3 linked regions of the Homo sapiens genome follow. The protein of the gene in region 1 purifies or fractionates together with the protein of each later gene. This does not show direct contact. Each region holds a gene or a part of one and is shown in the gene's direction. Other genes may lie near its edges. The genes, in order: NUP155, MRPL45 and TFE3.

The links.
Region 2: the proteins of NUP155 (region 1) and MRPL45 purify together in Homo sapiens (affinity purification with mass spectrometry, with the first as the bait; one large-scale study listed by BioGRID). This does not show direct contact.
Region 3: the proteins of NUP155 (region 1) and TFE3 purify together in Homo sapiens (co-immunoprecipitation; one large-scale study listed by IntAct). This does not show direct contact.

The regions. Positions count from the first base shown.
Region 1 is NC_000005.10:37,308,520-37,312,169, reverse strand, and holds part of NUP155 (nuclear pore complex protein Nup155), read left to right. Parts: intron 1-1,426; coding exon 1,427-1,618; intron 1,619-2,597; coding exon of another isoform or gene 2,598-2,648; exon of another isoform or gene 2,649-2,747; intron 2,748-2,902; coding exon 2,903-3,041; intron 3,042-3,650.
Region 2 is NC_000017.11:38,295,520-38,299,269, forward strand, and holds the start of MRPL45 (large ribosomal subunit protein mL45), read left to right. Parts: upstream 1-1,648; 5' UTR 1,649-1,664; coding exon 1,665-1,730; intron 1,731-2,929; coding exon 2,930-3,107; intron 3,108-3,750.
Region 3 is NC_000023.11:49,036,757-49,040,406, reverse strand, and holds part of TFE3 (transcription factor E3), read left to right. Parts: intron 1-996; coding exon 997-1,300; intron 1,301-1,964; coding exon 1,965-2,210; intron 2,211-2,292; coding exon 2,293-2,397; intron 2,398-3,632; exon of another isoform or gene 3,633-3,650. UniProt on the Homo sapiens protein: Transcription factor that acts as a master regulator of lysosomal biogenesis and immune response.

The DNA.
Region 1 (3,650 bases):
ATTCAAGTAGTAAGCCTAATACTGCCATTGTGGAATTCTCCATCAGATTTTAATCATCCATTGATAATCATTGCTGGAATTTATTATTTCATTTAGGATTACAAAAGGGTAATATTTATTTATTTGTTTGTTTGTTTTTTATTTTTTTTGAGACAGTGTCTCATTCTGTCACCCAGGCTGGAGTGCTGTGGAGCAATCTGAGATCACTGTAACCTCCACCTCCCGGGTACAAGCAGTTCTCCTGCCTCAGCTTCCCGAGTAGCTGGGACTACAGGCATGTGCCACAACGCCTGGCTGATTTTTGTAGTTTTAGTAAGAGACCGGGTTTCGCCATGTTGGCCAGGCTGGTGTTGAACTCCTGACGTCAGGTGATCTACCTGCCTTGGCCTCCCAAAGTGCTGGGATTACAGGCATGAGCCACCATGCCCGGCCAAAAGGATAATATTTTAAATCTGTGATTCCTTCCCCAGTTACTAGCTGCAATTCTGTAAAAAAAAAAAAAAAAATTCTTTTTCCTTGTCCTGTATGGATATTTCATTACTCTGAAACACTTACTTTTTGACTCTCGTATACCATTTTTCAACGTTGGAAGGCAGTCTCCTCATTCTTTCCACTAGTGTCCAATGAATAGTGTGGCTTTTGTTGGTGGTTTTGTTTCTTTTAAATACATACTGTTTTTTATTTTTAAAAATTCAAGCTAATATATTTAATTATGAAACTTATCTTTTTCATACCAAGTAGAATAATAATTTTGAGTTTTATAGAGTGATAAATATATTGTAGGTAGGTTTTTATCCTGGGTATGTTTTTGTGATCCATCTTCAAAGCTCTCTTCCTTACATCACCAATGGCATGCTCAATGAATGCAAATTAAAGATTTGTTCAAGAATTTTAACACAGTTTGGGTATTTCCTTGAATTTAGAAAAAAGAGATAGCAGTCACATCACTAACAGAATCTTTTACTATAGTATAAATCAATACTTTAGAGCTTCATTTGGACAAGCAGATTTGTTCACAATACAGATTAAACTCCAATATTATTATAAGGCCTAGAATAATGGAATTCTAACAGTGTTTAGGAAGGAGTAATATGTAAGCCCAAGATTTTCAAATATAGCCAAGTGATTGTTTTTTCCATTTTATAACCAAAGCCAGGAGATCTGACTCTAGTTTTGGCTCTACTTAAGCTTTACTTTTCTCATTTGGAAAGTGAGAGTTTTGGACTAGATCTACTGTAGGTTCTTTTCCAACTCTCTATGATTTTATGTAAGTTCGCAAAAATTTGTTTCTACTAATTAGTATATTTTCGCTTTTCAATTATAGAGTCTATTAATATTTAGGTTATTTTAATTTATTAAAATAATTTCATTATGTTTAGAAATATGGTATTTCTATAATTGTGATAGAAAAGTTTTATGCTCCTAGGAACTTCAAGAGCAGCTGAAGATCACCACCTTTAAAGATCTTGTAATCAGGGACAAAGAACTCACAGGGGCATTAATTGCTTCTCTTATCAACTGCTACATCAGAGATAATGCCGCTGTTGATGGCATTAGTTTACATTTACAGGATATCTGCCCACTTCTATATAGCACTGATGATGCAATTTGTTCTAAGGTATGATACTTTATTACCTATTTCATTGTTTGTTATAAGAGGTATCATGTATGATGAACCATCTTGTTTCACTTAATATAGGACCTCAGTCAGTTAGATCTCTTAACCTCTCCTAGCCTCAGAATCCTCATCTAAGAAAGGGGTTGGAATATGTGGCTTCTTAAAACCAGTGTATACTCTTTTAAGCTTAGCTTTTCTTTTTAAAAATATTTTTATTTATTTATTTGACACAGGGTTTCACTCTGTTGCTTAGGCTGTAGTGCAGTGCTGTGATCATAGCTCACAGCAGCTTCTAAGTCCTAGACTCAAGCAGGCCTCTCATGTAGCTAGGGGCTACGGGTGTGCACCACTACACCCAGCCAATTTTTTTGTTTTTTATAGAGACAAGTTCTGATTTGTTGCACAGGCTGGTCTTGAACTCTTGGCTTCAAGTGATCCTCCTGCCTCAGCCTCCCATAGTGCTGGGATTATAAGTGTGAGCCACCATGCCCAGCCCTCCTTTAAGTTTTTCATAAAGAATATTCTCTCTTTTTTTTTAAGACTGAGTACGATCTCAGCTCACTGCAACCTCCACCTCCCAGGTTCAAGTGATTCTCCTGCCTCGGCCTCCCAAATAGCTGGGATTACAGGTGTGCACCATCACACCTGGCTAATTTTTTATATTTTTGGTAGAGACAGGATTTCACCATGTTGTCTAGGCTGGTTTTGAACTCCTGACCTCCGCCTGCCTCAGCCTTGCAAAGTGTTGGGATTATAGACATGAGCCTCTGCGCCTGGCCCATAAAGAATCTTTGATAGTGTTTCTAGGCCATATTAAAAAACCAAAGGTGAGAAATTAAGAAAAATCACTAAATTTAGAAATTAAGGAAATTTAGGGGATAATTTATCTCCTTAGCTTAAGGAAAAGTACTAAAACTTCAAGTAAATCTTTTAGTGAATTAGAGTTAATGGGGGCATTTTTATTGATCCTTTCCTACAGGTGGAAAAAATAAATAAATCAGTGTCACATGGACTGCCTGCTGCCCAATAATGTATTGACTAGGCAAGAGAATTACCAGACAAAAGTTCTCTTGCTTAACATATTTGGGAGAGGAATTAAGAATAGCTAGGAATCTTTGGTCAAAAACTTTTCTGCCTAAAATTAAGAAGTAAGTTTGTAGAGTTGTTTTCATTTTAATGGTAATAACCATATATAAATTTAGACATAGACTAAAACTTAGTTGACAGCATCATCTGTCTGCTTGATTTTATATATTTTTAAGTTCTTGTTATCTCCTCTTCTAGGCAAATGAGCTTCTCCAGCGTTCCCGACAAGTTCAAAATAAGACTGAAAAAGAAAGAATGTTAAGGGAATCATTAAAGGAATATCAAAAAATTAGCAATCAAGTGGACCTTTCCAATGTTTGTGCTCAGTATAGACAAGGTGAGAAATAAAATGTTTCTTGTATCTTTTACTCAACTCAAAAGACAAACAATAGTGTATGAATGAAGCAAGCTAATGATGAAAAGCCACTTTCCAGATGCAAATCTTCTTTCAGCATCAGAGGCCGAGTGAAAGGACGTAGGAATGTGGTATCATTGTGTTGCAATATTTGATGACTACACTGACCTGCAGAAGCTGTAATGTTCTTTCTATTTTTTGAAATGTACTTTTTTTTTTTTTTTTTTTTTTTTTTGAGAGTCTCGCTCTGTCAGCCAGGCTGGAGTGCAGTGGCACGATCTCAGCTCACTGCATCCTCTGCCTCCCAGGTTCCAGCAATTCTCCTGCCTCAGCCTCCCGGGTAGCTGGTATTACAGGCGCACGCCACCACGCCCAGCTAATTTTTTATTTTTTTATTTTTTTATTTTTTTTATTTTGAGACAGAGTCTTGCTCTGTCACCCAGGCTGAAGTGCAGTGGTGCGATCTCAGCTCACTGCAAGCTCTGCCTCCCAGGTTCACGCCATTCTGCCTCAGCCTCCCAAGTAGCTGGGACTACAGGCGCCTGCCACCATGCCCGGCTAATTTTTTTGTATTTTTAGTAGAGATGGGTT
Region 2 (3,750 bases), on another chromosome or scaffold:
GAAGTCAAGCTTTAAAAAACGCCTGTAATCCTTGCACTTTGGGAGGCCGAGGTGGGCGGATTGCCGGAGCTCAGGAGTTGGAGACCAGCCTGGGCAACACGGTGAAACCTCGTCTCTACTAAACTAGAAAAAATTAGCCGGGCATGGCAGCGTGCACCTGTAATCCCAGTTACTCTGGCGGCTGAGGCAGGAGAATCGCTTGAACCTGGGAGGCAGAGGTTGCAGTGAGCCGAGATTGTGCCACCGCACTCCAGCCTGGGTGACAGAGTGAGACTCCGTCTCCAAAAACAACAACAACACGTGATCTCCAAACCCAAAAGTAATCTTTCAGTTCTTCTGATAGTCCCCAGCACTTTGCTTCGACCTTTGTAGCAATTCTACTTCAGCCTGAAATTTCTTGTATGTACAGCCTGTAGCTCCTAACTTATTGCAAAATATTGTAGATGAGAACTCTGTAAGCTGTAATTGGCAGAATAATAACCAACGGCTAAGTGTGGAAAGTGTCTGCCTTTCAGCAACGTTTACACTACTGAATTTACCAGGGTGATCCCAACATCACGAATCCTTTAACAACTTAACATGAAGCAGCACGTAGCAGTTACCTGCATGGGTTCTGGAATTAGACTGCTTAGATTCAAATCTCGGTTCTGCCAGTTATCATCTATCTAACCTTAAGTAAATTACGTAATTGCTCTGTGACTCCTTTCCGAAATGACAAATCACAAATGTTTTTGTCAATTCACGTGTCTTCTGCTTTAGTAAACATAGTAGAAGACAGTAGTCAATCTCTTTTTTTGTTTTTTTTTGAGACAAAGTCTTTCTCTGTCACCGACGCTGGAGTGCAGTGGCGGGATCTCGGATCACTGCAGCCTCCGCCTCCTGTGTTCGAGGGATTCTCCTGCCTTAGCCTCCCAAGTAGCTCAGACTACAGCCGCCTGCCACCAAGCCCGGCGCTCTCTTGCTGGCGCATGACAACCGTGCGTTCCACCCTACGACTAATTTTTTTTTTTTTTTTTTAGACGGAGTCTAGCTCTGGCTGGAGTCAGTGGCGCGATCTCGGCTCACTGCAACCTCTGCCTCCTGGGTTCAAGCGATTCTCCTGCCTCAGCCTTACAAGCAGCTGGGACTACAGGCGTGTGCCACCACGCCCGGCTAATTTTTGTATTTTTAGTAGAGACGGGGTTTCGTCATTTTGGCCAGGCTGGTCTCGAACTCCTGACTTCAGGTGATCCACCGGTCTCGGCCTCCCAAAGTGCTGGGATTACAGGCGTGAGCCACCGCGCCCGGCCTCCTTTTCCTTTTTTAACTAATGGAATAAACGGCAATGTGCCAAGCATACAGCAATGCCCATTCCCCGGCCTTCAGAAAGCCTCGGGCGCAGGCGCAGCTCGCGTTCAAGCGCTCTCTCGCTGGCGGGGGACAACAGTTCGTTCCACCCTACGCCCAACGTTGTCTCCCTGCGCACGCGCGGCCGTACTCCGCCCTCCTTACTCCACCCTCCCCCACTCCCGCGAGCACGTGCGCGTCCTCGCTGCTCACATTTCGGCGGAGGGCGCGCTCCCTGGAAAATTCCACTCCTGTGCTAGCTCCACCCTATGCGGCTTTTCTCCTACCCGACGCTCTTCACTCTCAGCTCCCTTCCCGGCGGCCTTTGCGGGAACAAGATGGCAGCCCCCATACCTCAAGGGTTCTCTTGTTTATCGAGGTTTTTGGGCTGGTGGTCTCGGCAGGTGGGTAGGGACGGGGCCGATAGGACCCTAGGGGCTACAGGAGAGGACAGAGTCGAGGGAAATACTCTCTGTGCAATTGTCCTTGGTGAGCTGGGACAATACGAGTCATACCTAGGCCGGGGAAGAGGCTTAGGTGGACAGGACCTAGCTGCGGAGCTCAGTGGTCGAATGGGGATAGCCTAGACAGGGCCATGAGAGCGAGTGAATTAACGGATATTAAGTTTTTCCGGATTGGTTTGGGTCTGTCTGGCGAGGAGATATTAAAGGAGAGACAAGTAATGGGTTGGAAGGTGGACTCCCTAATCTTCGATTCTTATAAGTGAACTACGTTGAAGAGTAGCCGAAAATGAGGGCGTCCCATATTGTCACTGCCCCGTCTGAGCAAACCTCATGATCAGAGAGAAAAGATCTCCTGATCTTTCGAGGGTTTATTGGTCAGTTGGGTGCTAAAACGACAGAATAAAGTTTACAGCGAGACTCCCGATAGGATGAGCAAAATATCACGAGTACATATGGAGCAGATGCCTACAAGAGGACTTTGCTTATGCTTTAAGCATAGCATTCAGGGCCCGGCGCGGTGGTTCACACTTGTAATCCCAGCACTTTGAAAGTCCGAGGCAGAAGGATGGCTTGAGCCCAGGAGTTCGAAATGAGCCTGGGCAACATATAAGACCTGGTCTTTACAAAAAAATTTTAAAATTAGCCAGATGCGATGGCGCACTCCTTAGTCCCAGCTACTTGGGAGGCTGCGGTGGGAGGATAGCTAGAGCCCAGGAGGTCAAGGCTGCAGTGAACCGTGATCGTGCCATCGCACTCTAGGCTAGCGATCTGCCTCAAAAAATAATAAAGAATAGTATTCTGCCCATTTCAGTATTGAGTTGGTGTTTCCCCATCACCATCAGTTTTTGAAACTTGCTTTGATCAACTCAGTATCCGTAGGAGTTAGCATAGTCCTGTACTGTGGGAAGTTCTAAAGGAAAGCCTTTAGTAAATGTGATGTTAATAAAGGTTGCTAACTGTCTTCTATTTAGAGACACCCATAAGTATTAAGGTCCTAATGCATTTTTTCCCTGTGATATTGTTTTATAATTGTTCCTGAAGCATTCTTTGGATATTCCCTCTCTATAGTGCTTTGCTTAGAGTTTGTAAAAGATAGTAGATCTTTTTTCTAGGTTCCTAACCTTTCCTTTACCTTCCAGCCAGTTCTGGTGACTCAGTCCGCAGCTATAGTTCCAGTAAGAACTAAAAAACGTTTCACACCTCCTATTTATCAACCTAAATTTAAAACAGAAAAGGAGTTTATGCAACATGCCCGGAAAGCAGGATTGGTTATTCCTCCAGAAAAATCGGACCGTTCCATACATCTGGCCTGTACAGGTGAGGTATTTCTGGGACCCTGACCTGGGATCCTTCTGTCAGAGATCTTCTGGAACTTGGGATGACTTGGACTATGATTGATAATATTTAATTAAGCACGAAGTCAGTTCAACCTCAATAATGATTAACCTTATATACACTATATATCATGAAGTTGTTCTTTGAACTTACTTTCACACTGTCCCTAGAAGGCAAGAGTGAAATTTCTCCATTTTGTGGAAGTAGAAACTGAGGCTCTGAGAGAAGACTTAAATCTTTCTGGCTTTTTTTGTTTTGTTTTGTTTTGTTTTTTGAGACAGAGTCTCGTTCTGTCGCCCAGTGGCACAATCTGGGCTCACTGCAACCTCTGCCCCCCTGGGTTCAAGCGATTCTCCTACCTCAGCCTTCCAAGTAGCTGGGATTACAGGCACCTGCCACCATGCCCGGCTAATTTTTGTATTTTTAGTAGAGATGGGGTTTCACCATCTTGGCCAGGCTGGTCTTGAATTCCTGACTTTGTGATCCGCCCGCCTCGGCCTCCCAAAGTACTGGGATTACAGGTGTGAGCCACTGTGCCCGGCCTTGTTTTGTTTTTTTCTAGTGTAACATAGTTCTCTCTACATGGAAGTCTGTTTCATTAGTCTACTTCATATCCACAATCCTT
Region 3 (3,650 bases), on another chromosome or scaffold:
CTCTCCCCTCTTGATGGGCAGAGGCCCTCAGTACCAGCCCAACCCATTCTTTCACCAGCCTGCGTTTTCTAGGTGGTAAAATTAGGGACCAGAAAGAGCATGTCACACAGGAAAGTAGGTGGCCAAGCTAGGATTCCAGTATCTCTGTCAAGACCTCCCCTGCCTGCCCCCAGCCCACCTGCACACCCATTCATATGCAAGTGTTTCAGCCTCAGGTGTTCCAGCCGGCCTGGAGTGCTCAGAGATAGGGCGTGGCCTGCTTAAACTCATGTCCCCGGGTGGGCGGGGACATGCCTCTAGCCCCAACTCAGTCCCTTCCCACACTACCAACTCACCCACCCTCAGCCCTTGAGGAGCCCCTGCTGGTCTCTTCTTTCCCCAAGCTTGGAAGTCTAAATGTGCTGAGTCATCGGCCCGGGCTCTGAGAGAGGGGAGGGGAGGGGGAAGAGGGGCAGGAAGAGAGTATTGTGAAATCTCCGAGGTTTTCAAGACTGACTAGCTCCTGGGACCAGAGGCCCAGGCAGGGGAAGAAGAGGAACCTGGGGCTTCTCCTATCACCTGACGCCCACCCCCAGGAGCTCAGAGAGCTTCTCTAGCCTCACATTGGGCTTAGGAGCCCTCTGTATCCACATTCTGCTGCCAAAGCCTCAATTCTGCTTCTTCTGCTCTCCTGTAAATAGGACAAACCCCCCCTTGCAGAGCTGAACAATAGCATCTCCACTTAATATGTGAACAGGCTCAAATCTAGGCTTCACCATAAGGACCAAAGGCTAAAACTCCCCCACCAGACTGACCTCCAGTGTGTCCCCCATCAGACTGTGACCCCTGAGAGCCATCACCAAGCCTGGTTCCTGTGTCTCTGCTTCTACATTGTGGCCTCGGAAGGCAGAGAACAGGCCTGGTTCCTGTGTCTGCTCCGTCACGCTAAGACCCTTTAGGCTTGGGATGAGACTTTTAGCTTACCTAAAATATGGCCCCATATTTCCCATTCCACAGCCTCCCAATATCACTGCAGGCCACACCAGCCACCCCAGCTACACTCTCTGCATCGTCTTCTGCAGGGGGCTCCAGGACCCCTGCCATGTCGTCATCTTCTTCATCGAGGGTCTTGCTGCGGCAGCAGCTAATGCGGGCCCAGGCGCAGGAGCAGGAGAGGCGTGAGCGTCGGGAACAGGCCGCCGCGGCTCCCTTCCCCAGTCCTGCACCTGCCTCTCCTGCCATCTCTGTGGTTGGCGTCTCTGCTGGGGGCCACACATTGAGCCGTCCACCCCCTGCTCAGGTGCCCAGGGAGGTGCTCAAGGTAAGGTGAGATCCAGAGGCCCTGGGAGGGGGCTCCTGGTGACTGAGGAGTGATCCTAGGAGCTAGGGATGGCCTCGATGCACTGGTGATTTGGGGGCAAGGTCTTAGGGGCTCTAAGGAAGGTCCCTGGTACTGTTTAAATTATCTGTGTTCATGTCTCATGTGTTTTGGGTTTCTGAGATGATCTTGTGAAATTGCGAGGAGTTCGTGGGGGCCATGAGGATGTCTTGGTGGACCATGGAGGCTCATGAGTGCCCCAAGTGGGCCCTGGCTTTGTAGGAAGAGCTTCATGTGTGTGGGATACATTAGTTCTTTGGCCATTAGGGGGTCTTGGGAAGCATTGTATGGTTCCCAGGTCTATTAGGTGGTGTCAGAGACTAGGTGGGGAATCTTGGGGACTGTGACAGGGTTTTCCAGAAACTACGAGGGATCCTGTCAGTCATGGGTGGATCTTGGCAGCTGTGAAGGATTTCTGAGAAAGAGAGTTTGGGTCCTGGGGGAGACTCGCTAATATTTTTGGGGTGTTCTCAGATTCTGGGCCCAGCTTGTCTGCGTGAGTCTAGGCACCAATGAGTTAGGAGGGTCAGGCTGGGGCTCAGAATTCACCCCTTTGAGTCCTGTTCTGCCTTGTCCCCTCTCTTTCCTTGTCTACCTTATTTCACAGGTGCAGACCCATCTGGAGAACCCAACGCGCTACCACCTGCAGCAGGCGCGCCGGCAGCAGGTGAAACAGTACCTGTCCACCACACTCGGGCCCAAGCTGGCTTCCCAGGCCCTCACCCCACCGCCGGGGCCCGCAAGTGCCCAGCCACTGCCTGCCCCTGAGGCTGCCCACACTACCGGCCCCACAGGCAGTGCGCCCAACAGCCCCATGGCGCTGCTCACCATCGGGTCCAGCTCAGAGAAGGAGGTAAGAGGCTACAGCCAAACCTCCTCCCACATTCCCCTCCCAAATTCTTCTAAACCTGTATAATATTTACTTCTTCCCCTAGATTGATGATGTCATTGATGAGATCATCAGCCTGGAGTCCAGTTACAATGATGAAATGCTCAGCTATCTGCCCGGAGGCACCACAGGACTGCAGCTCCCCAGCACGGTGAGGCCCTGAGATGGGAGGTTGGTCTGAAAATTAGGGCATTTCTGTATCACCAAGACCATACTCAGTCTGGCTGTGTGTATAGGAGACCCTTGCCTTGATTGTGCTAAGATAGAGAGGGAGGCCTTATGACGAGAACAGGGTATGTCAACAATGCCTTTGGACCTTGTTGGACTGTGTTGAGAGGTGGACCATGTAGACTGTGAGAGATACAGGTGGGGAGTTCACTGAGACAGTAGGGCATATCAAAGTGCTTGGGCTTTGCTGTGAGAAGTACCAAGAGATGATAATCTTTTTTTTTTTTTTTTTTCGAGACGGAGTCTCGCTCTGTCACCCAGGCTAGAGTGCAGTGGCGCGGTCTCAGCTCACTGCAACCTCTGCCTCCCAGGTCCAAGCGATTCTCCTACCTCAGCCTCCTGAGTAGCTGGGATTATAGGCACGTGCCACCATACCAAGCTAATTTTTCTATTTTTAGTAGAGACGGGGTTTCATCACGTTGGTCAGGCGGGTCTTGAACTCCTGACTTCGTGATCTGCCTGCCTCGGCCTCCCAAAGTACTGGGATTACAGGCGTGAGCCACCACACCCGGCCGAGATGAGCATCTTATAGCAACTTGAATGTACCAAGGGATTCAGGTCATCGGGACATATACACCAGACCATGTAATGATTGGAGCATTTTGTTTTATTTTATTTTTACCTTTTTTTTCTTTTAAGACAGAGTCTCACTCTGTCACCCTGGCTGGAGTGCAGCGGTGCGATCTTGGCTCACTGCAGCCTCTGGGTTCAAGCGATTTTCGTGCCTCAGCCTCTCACGTAGCTGGGATTACAGGTGTACGCCACTACGCTTGGCTAATTTTTGTATTTTTAGTAGAGACCGGGTTTCACCCTGTGAGCCAGGCTGGTCTTGAACTCCTGACTTCAAGTGATCCACCTGCCTTGGCCTCCCAAAGTGCTGGAATTACAGGTGTGAGCCACCACGCCTGGCCTTGAAGCATAACAAAAGTTTTCAAACTTGCTGTGGGTTATAACAAGTAGTTGGATCTCGTAGTGATTGGAATATACCAAGTGAACTGTGCCAGGAGGCAGAGTCCTTCTAGTCAGTAGATAAAACTTTCTAGAGCAAGGGATATACCATTGTAACATTCTGGTTTTGAACACTCCAAGAGTCTCATAACTTGCTTTATTATATTTATTTATTTATTTTTTGAGACAAAGTCTTGCTCTGTCACCCAGGCTGGAGCGCAATGGTGC